Linked DNA regions of Homo sapiens. The protein of the gene in region 2 purifies or fractionates together with the protein of the main gene of each other region. This does not show direct contact. Each region holds a gene or a part of one and is shown on either strand. Other genes may lie near its edges. The genes, in order: THUMPD3, SLC45A4 and RXYLT1.

Region 1 (3,652 bases), on a different chromosome or scaffold from region 2:
CTAATCTCAAAGTCCAAAATCCAAAACCTAAAATTTTTTTGAAGTGCCAACATGATGCCACACAGGTAGCTGAGATAGTGACACCTTTGCTTTCTGATGGTTCAGTGTACACAAACTTTGTTTCATGTATAAATTATTTTAAAAATCATATAAAATTACCGTCAAGCTATACGTATAACGTATATATGAAACAAATGAATCTTGGATTTATTTATACATAGGTTCCACCCTCAGAGTATTTCTTTCTTTTTTTTTTTTTTTTTTTTTTTTGAGACGGAGTCTTGCTCTGTTGCCCAGACTAGAGTGCAGTGGCGTGATCTCGGCTCACTGCAACTTCTGCCTCCCGGGTTCAAGTGATTCTCCTGCCTCAGCCTCCCGAGTAGCTGGAATTACAGAAGCCCGCCACCGCACCCGGCTAATTTTTGTATTTTTAGTAGAGATGGTGTTTCACCACCTTGGCCATGCTGCTCTCAAACTCCTGACCTCATGATTCACCTGCTTTGGCTTCCCAAAGTGCTGGGATTACAGGTGTGAGCCACCATGCCCAACCCAGAATATTTCAAAAAACAAACAAACAAAAATCCAAAACATTTCTGGTCCCGAGTATTTCAGATAAGGGATACTCAACTTGTATATGAAAAAAAAGCATAGCGCAGAAAAGTATGTATGCTATGCTTTCATTTGTGTAAATAAAATACATTTATTCGTAAAATATCTCCAGAATAATACCCAAGAAATTGCTAACAGTTGTTGCCTCCAGGGAGGGAGCTGCATAGCATGAGGATATAGGAACAAAGACTTACTTTTCACTCTATATCCATTCAGTCTTTACAAGTTTGCTCCAAATACATGTATTAACTAGTCTTTAAAAACCCATATAAATCACAGATTTGTTCATACTTTTAAAAAGGCAGATGGAGGCCAGGCGCGGTGGCTTACGCCTGTAACCCCAGCACTTTGAGAGGCCAAGACAGGTGGATCACGAGGTCAGGAGTTCAAGACCAGCCTGGCCAAGATGCTGAAACCCCGTCTCTACTAAAAATACAAAAATTAGCCGGGCATGGTGGCATATGCCTATAGTCCCAGCTACTCGGGAGGCTGAGGCAGGAGAATCGCTTGAACCCAGGTGGCAGAGGTTGCAGTAGGCTGAGATTGTGCCACTGCACTCCAGCCTAGGCAACAGAGCAAGACTCTGTCTCAAAAAAAAAAAAAAAAAAAATATGCGCGGGTGGAGGTGGGGAATGGGGGCCAGGTGCAATGGCTTACACCTGTAATCCCAGCACTTTGGGAGGCTTAAGTGGGAGGATCACTTGAGCCCAGAAGTTTGAGACCAGCCTGGGCAACATAGTGAGACCCCATCTCAATATTTTTTAAAAGAGGGGGGTGGGGACTAATAAATTCATGATTATCATCTGAATACTTAAGAGAACTCATTAGAATTGCTTTAAGCTTTTCTAAAAGTTAGATTTTTACTTAATACAATTTTTATCTATTTTCAGTCTGACTTTTTTTTTTGAGATGGAGTCTCGCTCTGTCGCCCAGGCTGGAGTGCAGTGGTGTGATCTCTGCTCACTGCCAGCTCCGCCTCCCGGGTTCACGCCATTCTCCTGCCTCAGCCTCCTGAGTAGCTGGGACTACAGGCGCCCACCACTACGCCCGGCTAATTTTTTATATTTTTAGTAGAGACGGGGTTTCACCGTGTTAGCCAGGATGGTCTCGATCTCCTGACCTCATGATCCACCCGCCTCGGCCTCCCAAAGTGCTGGGATTACAGGTGTGAGCCACCACGCCAGGCCCTTAAGTCTGACTTCTTTTAGGTCTGGTCTTATTGTTTTCTAGGCTGAGGGTTCATACAACTTTGACTCGTTTTTGAATAACGTTTTGGAAATCAACATGCTTGCCAATAAATAAAAGTTAGACAATTAGGTAGCGTATCACAGTTGTTTTTAAAAAGATTATTTCTAAGATACGTAAAACTGATAGAAAAATGTTTTTAAGCGGTTAACTCTAGAAACCTAACCAAAAAGCAGTGTGGAAAAAACCTAAAGCCTTGCTGCAATCTATTTTCAACCTTCAGCTTAGGCAGCAGCTGAATATTTAGGATTCAGATGCTAAATACATATTGGAGACAAAGCTGTTGTCCTAACAACTGAAGGAGTATTTAGATGTTATTTTGGCTTTATTTCAAAAAATGAAGAAAGAGAAGAAAGCAGAGCAAAAGCAGGATGGTGAGGAAGTGTTATTTGTAGAAGACACAAACTGTCACTTGTTCTTTGGTTCATGTTCTGGAAGCAATTCTCTTTTGGAACTAAATATATGTAAAAGCAAAGCAAATCTAAGGTTTATATCTCTTACAAGTAAAACAAGGTGTTTTCTTCTTTCTTATAAACTTTAATGGTTTTCAATACTAATTTTCAAAAAACATCTTTTGGGATAGACTGTCAGCAAAACTCTAGATTTTACTGTAAAAGCCTCCCAGTATTCTCTATTACAAAGACTACAGTAATGCTAAACTTTCACAGACTATGAAAAATGGAAATAATCTCTTTGTGGAAGACAGCCAAAAATCAGCCACCATGTTTAGGATAGCTCACCTTTGTTTGTTTGAACTGGTAATCTTGAAACTCCTGAACCACCACAAATAAGTTATCAACTGATCTCAGACAATGAACCTGGGTGAAAAAAAAAGAAACACATTTCTGAGAAAGCTTTTGAACAGCACAAGCTATCAACAATTAAGTATTTAAAAAATTAGGAATGATAGTTTTAAAGCAGCTACTAACTATATTTTGTATTTTTAAAATGTCCCATCTCCCTAGTTTCTCATCTCTTTGGTTACTAATCAGCTTTCCCCTAGAGAAAGGGAAAAAGGGCAGATGGAAAGAGAGAAGCATGAAGTGTTTTGTGGGCAACACGTCTTTTGTGGGAGAAGAGAAAGGTGAAGCCACTCAGGTGGGCTGTATCATATTTCCTCGATGACTTTCTAGGGTACACTGTATGCTGCAATGGTTAAAAGCAGGGGATTTGAGCTCCAGTTCTGTGATTACTAGCTGAGTGGCCCTGGGGAAATTATTTATGTGTCCTAAGCCTAATGATTAATGAGGATAATAATAGTGCCTATCTTCACAAAGCTGCTGAGGGTATTGGCTAAAATATTGGATGGAAAACATTTGCTTACCAATTCATCCCACAGATATTTTCTGGGTACCTACTATATGCCAGACACTAAGAGCGTGGGATATATTGGTGGAAAAAAAAATAGACAACAATCCTTGCCCTCTCACTGCTTATGTGGTAATGAGATATATCAGCTTTATGATAGTGAGATTGCAGTTTTCTGACCTTCACTTTTTACCTTGAGTGAGTCCTAATTACTTCTGAGCAAGAATTTTTGATGCAAATTAAAAGGAAAATCTCTTTTATGTTTCATCACCAAAGGTTAAACATCTGCTATATGCTGAAGTAAATAAATACTGAGATACTTAGAGAATTTCTTAAGTTGAACAGTATTCTTTCTGGTGAATTCAATCCTCAAGAAATACTAGATCACCTCTAAAAATGTAGCAATCCTACTACAGGTTGAGCAGCCCACATCTAAAAATCTGAAACTTTTTGAGCCCCAACACAATGCTGAAAGGAAATGCTCAGTGCA
Region 2 (3,652 bases):
GGGGAGGTCGAGGCTGCAGTGAGCCATGATCTCACCACTGGACTCCAGCCTGGGGGACAGAATGAGACCCTATCTCAAAAAAAAAAAAAAAAAAAAAAAAAAAATCCTGGGCAACTCAGTGAGACCCCATCTCTGCAAAAAATAAAAATAAAAACTAGCTGGGCATGATAGCATACACCTGTGGTCCCAGCTACTCAGGAGGCTGGAGAGAGAGAATTGCATAGACCTAGGTGGTCAAGGCTGTAGCGAGCCCTGATCCCACCACTGCACTCCAGCCTGGGTGACAGAGGGAAACACTGTCTCAAAAAAGAAAAAAAAGAATGAGGGATGAAAAGACTTTCAAATGGAGCAAACATACAAGTTCACAAAGAAAAAAACTGCCTTGTCAAGACTGTTAAGAACAATTTGTTCATTTTTTAAAAGGGTGACTGATGGTAGGTATCATTAGGATATTTAACATTGGATACTTTTTAAAAAGCAATACAATGGTTACTTTTAAATGCCAACATTATACTAGAAATTGCATCTTTTGCAGTTGTTTCAAATTAGGACCAAAAATTTAAACATCAACTTAAAAATGTGTCTATAGTTTTTCAAAGTTTTTTTTGTTTTTTAGATGGAGACAGAGGCTTGCTCTTTCGCTCAGGCTGGAGTGAAGTGGCGCAATCTTGGCTCACTGCAACCTCCACGCCACTCACCATCACCACCACCACCACCACCACCCCCATCCCCGCTGCCCTCCCTCCCCCCGACCCCACCCCTGCCCCCAGGTTCAAGCCATTCTTGTGCTTTAGCCTCCTAAGTAGCTGGGATTATAGGCGTGCACCACCACACTTGGCTAATTTTTGTATTTTTAGTAGAGATGGTTTTGCCATGTTGGCCAGGCTGGTCTCGAACTCCTGACGTCAGGTGATCCACTCACCTTGGCCTCCCAAAGAGCTAGGATTACAGGCATGAGCCACCGCGGCAGGCGTAAAGTTATTTTACAGAACACATAAGCAAAAATGTTTTCAGGCCTTTGCTTGACAGCAATGTAACTCTAAAACATTCCTAATTCATTCATCACTGACAGTGAAAAAGCTGCCTCTACGATACTCAGGCAGTCCCCCTCGCCTCGTGTCTAACATGCTCTTAATATGCGATTTCATCTCCAGCGTGGAGATGTCAAACCCCTCCCCTCAAAAAACTTACAAAATATTCCCTTCCCATATACACCAAACCAAAAACCATGCTCTTGAATAAATGTATTTCCCTAAAATGATGACTACATTGTTGGTGATAAGGAACTTATTTTCTGTTTTTTCTTATTTTCTTGTTTTCTGGCCTTACAATGTCTTTTTTTTTTTTTTTTTTTGAGACAGGGTCTCACTCTGTTGCCCCAGCTGGAGTGCAGTGTGGGTGTGATCTCCCCTCACTGCAGCCTGGACCTCCTGAGCTCCAGCAATCCTCCCGCCTCAGCCTCTCGAGTAGTTGGGACCACTGATGTGAGACACCGCATCCGGCTAATTTTTTTGTATTTATAGAGACAGGGTTTTGCCATGTTGTCCATGCTGGTCTCAAACTCCTGGGCTCAGGCAATCTGCCCGCCTCAGCCGCCTAAAGTGCTGGGACTATAGGCACGTGCCATCGTGCCCGGCTAATTTTTGTTTTTTTTTTTTTTTTGGACAGGTGGGGTTTTGCCGTGTTGCTCAGGCTGGCCTGGAACTCCTGGACTCAAGCGATCCTCCTGCCTCAGCCTCCAAGAGTGCTGGGATTGCAGGAACGAGCCTCTGTGCCCAGCCTGAGTGATTTCCTAAAATTGTGCAATAAGGGTCATATATAAAAGTATAATGACCACCACACCTGACCAGGTAAGCACTGTGTTGATCCCTCTTTATTATCTATTCTAAGGGTTTGCTATGCATTTTTCACTCAAGATTTTCCTTTCTTTGAAATAGGAAAAATTTGGTTGCCAGTCAATTCAGATGGCTCCAGGATTTCAAGGCAGAACCCCAAGAGAAACCTTGGGGCAAACTACAAAAACTCAGAGCAAGTAGCATAACAGAACCCCAGGTTGGAAGGGACTTTTCAATGCAGCAAATTAAGCACCTCTGGGCCAGAGTTCAGGAATGCAGTTTCCTCTCACTGCCAGCAAAATCCTTCAACAGGTTTAGGAGGATGAAAGTACCGAGACCCAGGTCTGAACAATACCTCCCTCACTGGGGCCTGGGCCCAGTAGAGGTGGGAGGGTGAGATGGCCAAGCTCAATGACTTGAAAGGTTACGCAAATCCCTTCAGCTGCCTCAGGATCCCACTCTGGACTGGCTGGCACCCTTATTCCTGCACTGGGGACAAAATGCCCAGCACTATTCCCCCCCGCGGCTCCCGACAGACTCTGAGAGTGAACTTGTGTTCTGGAGCCCTCACTAGACAGGAAGGTGGGCCTTGGGATGACCCTCAAAATAATGCAGCTACAGCCCAGCCCCTCTAACTTAAGAGAAATCCCACCAGCTGCGGTAGTATGAACCTATAACCCAGCAGCTACTTGGGAAGCTGGGGCAGGAGGATCACTTGAGCCTAGGGGTTCAAGACCTGCTTGGGCAACACAGTGAGACCCCCTGACTCTTAAATACACACACACACACACGCAAAGGAGAGAGACTATAATGCCAGCACTTCGGGAGGCCCAGGCAGGCAGATCACTTGAGGTCAGGAGTTCAAGACCAGCCTGGCCAACATGGTGAAACCCCATTTCTACTAAAAATACAAAAATTATCTGGGCATGGTGATGTGCACCTGTAGTCCTAGCTATTCGGGAGGCGGAGGCAAAAGAATCGCTTGAACCTGGGAGGTGGATGCTGCAGTGAACCAAGATCGCACCACTGCACTCCAGCCTGGGTGACAGAGTAAGACTGTCTCAAAAAAAAAAAAAAAAAGGGGGGGAGAGAGAGAACTTCCTCTCCCTCTCACCTGAAGTCCCCAAGCTACACAGCAGCTGAGCCAAAGAGAACTCAGAGCCCTTCTCTCCATCATCAGGGTTTTGTGCTATTTCCCGCAATCTAACCAGTCGCACTCAACAAATGACCCCTACCAAGTGTCCCGTCTTCCTGGGGCAATAACACCCACGTCGTCTGAGGTGGGAACAACAGCAACCCATCCACGGCTCTCAAAGGGCCACTCTATCAGGGATATGAAACACTAAGTGGGTTATGCGGCTGCCCTCTAAGTCTGTGGATGTTTTTAATCTTCTTAAAATGCCTCCTCCAAAAGTCACTTGCCAAGGAGGCCACTTCGTAAACACTATGCTGTTTCTCCTGTCACCTCCACCCAAATGGCAAGGGGTTGAAAATGACAATATGACCTGTTAAGCTTCCCTTTCGGCAGGCCCTCTCCTGATTCAGGGTAGAGAAGATTCATTTCCACGAACATTAAAGAGGTCTCCCGGTCCTCTGAAAGTGCCTGATTTCACAAAAGCTTAGCATTTGATACTCGGGGGAAAAGGCCACTAGAAGCACATTTTGAAAGTTTCACATTTAAAAAGATCCTTGTTCATTGATTTTGGTGGGGTAATTAAGCTAATCTAAACAAGGGGACCTTGTCTAGGAGCCGGTGGGGGAGGTGCAGCCGCTCAGGTCCTCTGCATGAAAACCCACTGCAGACGCCTGCTTTTGGG
Region 3 (3,752 bases), on a different chromosome or scaffold from region 2:
TTGATGAAATTCACTTGGCCACTTTGCACTTATCAGATTGAAAAGAGAGAAGTCTGGAAATGAAAATCTGAGATTTAAAAGAAGAAATCAATATTAGAGACTTTATTTAAAAAATAATGGCTAGAACTTGATGATTGAAGGCCTGGTTTCAGGTACTTGAAATTTAGAGGTTGGTAGTAATCTTCTAGGATATATACTTGTATGTAAGTATGAACGAATTTATGAAATACCATGAGCAGAGCACTATGCTCTGTACATTTTCCTCTCATCTGGTACTTTCTATCCATATGCCTTATTGTACATAAACCCAACTCATGTTCAAAGGCCACATAAAGCGCTTTCTAAGTCACTAAATTCTTTGTGACTCTTTAAACCCTCAGGGCCCCATTCTCTAATTGAGCATAATATATATCTTAGAACACTACACTCTCATGATATTCACAGCAAAAATGCTTCTGTGGTCAATCAAGTTTAATCAACTACATACTATAATATATTCCTTCGCTGATACAATGAACATTGTCATATTAAAGGCTCTTGAGAAAGGCCTGCAATGAAGAACCTTGTTTAACTTTGTACTCTTCAGTGTTTCCCAAATGTGTTTGGCCATCAAGGGCAGGGGCCACATCTTATACTTGTGTATCAAGTGTCCAAAAAATACACAGATTCATGAAAATTCAGTTGACATATGCATTGCAATCTAATGACACTATACAGCCTACTCAATGTATCAATAAATGAAGCTGTGCTCTGCTAAAGACCAACAGTGGAATATGTATGTGTGTACATTTACAAACAGATGTTGTCTAATTGGAAGGAGAAAGGAATTATTGACAAAAAGCGAAAAAATATATCATGATGCCTTAATTAACAAATTATGAAATAAATTATATTAAAATGAATTTCATATCAATAAAATACATTTTATAATGCTTTTTACATGTCTTCCTTCTACGTATTAACTTACCAATGGCAGCTTTGCCCCAGATTTGTACACTGAGATCTGTTTTTCCTTTCGTGGATTTATCTAATATTTGAAGGCTAGTTTTAAATCTGTGTTGTTGCTCATTTTTTTCATCTCCTTCCCAAGGATTCCATTCTTCACTTTCCAAAGTGGACTGTTCTGTTTTAAAAAGAGTAAGTGTTTACCAGTAAGGTATTATTGCAGTTGTAGGTAAATTCAAATCATTTAAATTAAGTGTTAGTTCTAATTTCATCCTAACTTTAATTTCTGAGAGGTACAGCAACTGAATTTAAACTGGTAATACACAATGAAAACAAAAAAGAAAATCAGCAATTTTTTTACTGAACTTTTTTTACTCTGAAAAGTCTTAGAAATAAAATGCTACCTTGAGACAGGAAAATTCTCTTCCCCAACACAAAACCTTTAAAAATAACAGGATAATATGTATCAAGTTACAAGCTTAACTTTTGCAATTATTTTTATCCATTGTATACAGGTAACCTATGCACAAAAAACTGACTTCAGAGTGTAGTGTTCACCAGTCTTAGATACTATCGTGCAAAATTCTGAATAAAGGGAAAGAGAAAGCCGAGTCTGATCTTAACACAAGTTAAAACACAGGACAGGGGACCAGAATTTGGAGGTAAAGTCTGCCTTATGGTCACTGCAGGATTAGAGAGGGCTTTGTTTCAACATGGAAACGGATGTCTTAAACCTTGCGGCGATTTTGAGGCCTTCCAGGAGCATTCCCGCAAATCTCTGGCATTTGAGACGACGTCTTGGATTTTAACACGTGTTTGAAAGGCGTGCGCGCCTGTCACCCCCTGGGATCGGGAGCGGGGACGGCGTGTGAGATCTGGGTAAGAATGAGGACCATTCTCCAATTCCGAGCCAAGGGCTGGCTCGAGAGGCTGTAGGGGGCAAAGCGCTTCTCAGGCCCTGCGGGTAATCCCGGACTTGAGAGCCGGGTGCGGGGACCCGGCCCCAGCCGCCCAGCAGCCCCAGCCAGGAGCGCAGAGCCGGAAGGAAGCCGCCGACCCAGTCCTACCTCGGCCGCGTCTCTCCCGCGCGGGGGCCGCCCCCTTCCTGAGGCCCCGCGGGGACCCGGCCGGCGCCTGGCGGCGGCGCCCGAAGAAGACGTGGTAGGCAGCGTAGAGGGAGAATAGGCAGTACAGGGCGATAAGAAACGAGCAGAGCCGCTTCCGCGTCAGCCGCATCCCACTCGGGCTTCCAGTCAGGCATCCACCGCCATGGAGCGGGCGGAAAGAGAATCCGCGACACCGGCGGCGTCCGAGGCAGGCCCAGCCCGTTTCCAGGCAGTCCCCAGCCAAGGCTCCTCCGCCCAGCGCCCGGTACAGCCCCGCCCCGGACACGCCCACCGCCCGCCTCCCGCCCAGGCCCCGCCCCCTCCAGTCGCGGCTCATCCACCCGGCCGAGGGCCTGCCCACCTTCGACACTGGAGGAGGGGGTACTGGAGCGGCCCCTACCCCACGCTGCTTCCAGACGCCGGGCTGAGTGGGAACCTCTCTGACCTCTGCCGTGTACTCATTGCACCTTTCAACCCTGGCCACTTTTCCCAAGTACATAAAGACTCGGGGGAAAAAGAACACCCGCGGTGGTCCATGAAGGCCATGTGAAGGCATGGACTGTGACGTTTTTTGCTCTGCATGGAATCCCTAGCGCCTAGGACAGTGCCTACTACGTTGATAGATGAGTGAATATAAACGTCCTTTAAAAAAATTAAGTGATGATGGTCGCTTAACATTGTGAATGTAATTAATACCACTCACTTGTATGCATAGAAATAGTTAAACTGTCGAATTCATGTTTTATATACCTTACTGCAATAAAAACATTTTTAAAGTTAAGTTTCATTATTATGTGAGTTGAACGCACATAGGCATGCAGTATTTTGTCAAATAGAGGCTGTAAATGTGAATGCTTCAGAAAACTTTGTATCCAGCCTTGGGAAGATGGGCTACAATGTTTTGTCAGTTGCTCTGGTACTACTGTTCAAATTACCCAGCAGTCTTGCGACGGTATGTCTGCTAATTAGGGTGACCAATGGTCCCAGTTTGCCCAGGACTGTAAGGATTCTCCAGTTGGAGGATTTTTAGTGCTAAAATTGAGAAAGTCCTAGGAAATCAGTAAAATTGGTCACTCTAGCACCGACCCTAAACTATTAGGTCAAACACTTTACCCAATCCCCCAAACAGTTCCCTGCCTCAAAAGACCTGTTTTAAACCATTTTTGCTCAGACTCCCCAAATCCTATAAATATCACCCCCAACCTTCTCCTTCTGAGACTGCCAAGCTTCTGTCAAAGTGTGGCCTCCCTTACTGTAGTAGATTTAATAAATTTAGCTTTCCTTGATTAACAGGCTATTCTGGTGTCTTAGGGAGATGGCAGTTGTTTTATGTATGCTGTATTGTTGTTTATCCTATTTTGTTTGTTTGTGGAAATGACAATTATTTAAGGATAGGAAGTAATTACCTTATAATTACCACAAAACACCCACTGTATCAATGTACATTCAGATGCTACTGACTAATGGTTTTACTATTGAGAAATGCATACAAGGTAAAACTAATATGCAGTTGATGTCATCTTGAATAGGGGAGAGGGCCATGAAAATGAAGGAGTTGTTTTACCTCAAACTGCAAATGACTGCATAATTTGATGATAAGCTTTTAAAAATGTATTTAGGTTACAAAGGAATCTTCTAATTGATCTAAGTCTGGCAGAGTTCATTTTCCTTTCTCTTGGTGTTTAATGGTTGAGCTACAGC

The links.
Region 1: the proteins of SLC45A4 (region 2) and THUMPD3 purify together in Homo sapiens (affinity purification with mass spectrometry; one large-scale study listed by BioGRID and IntAct). This does not show direct contact.
Region 3: the proteins of SLC45A4 (region 2) and RXYLT1 purify together in Homo sapiens (affinity purification with mass spectrometry; one large-scale study listed by BioGRID and IntAct). This does not show direct contact.

What each region holds. Positions count from the first base shown.
Region 1 is NC_000003.12:9,365,928-9,369,579, reverse strand, and holds part of THUMPD3 (tRNA (guanine(6)-N(2))-methyltransferase THUMP3), read right to left. Parts: intron 2,673-3,652; coding exon 2,595-2,672; intron 1-2,594. UniProt on the Homo sapiens protein: Catalytic subunit of the THUMPD3-TRM112 methyltransferase complex, that specifically mediates the S-adenosyl-L-methionine-dependent N(2)-methylation of guanosine nucleotide at position 6 (m2G6) in tRNAs.
Region 2 is NC_000008.11:141,301,659-141,305,310, forward strand, and holds part of SLC45A4 (solute carrier family 45 member 4), read right to left. Parts: intron 1-3,652. UniProt on the Homo sapiens protein: Proton-associated sucrose transporter. May be able to transport also glucose and fructose.
Region 3 is NC_000012.12:63,778,390-63,782,141, reverse strand, and holds the start of RXYLT1 (ribitol-5-phosphate xylosyltransferase 1), read right to left. Parts: upstream 2,234-3,752; 5' UTR 2,182-2,233; coding exon 2,013-2,181; exon of another isoform or gene 1,680-2,012; intron 1,124-1,679; coding exon 968-1,123; intron 1-967. UniProt on the Homo sapiens protein: Acts as a UDP-D-xylose:ribitol-5-phosphate beta1,4-xylosyltransferase, which catalyzes the transfer of UDP-D-xylose to ribitol 5-phosphate (Rbo5P) to form the Xylbeta1-4Rbo5P linkage on O-mannosyl glycan.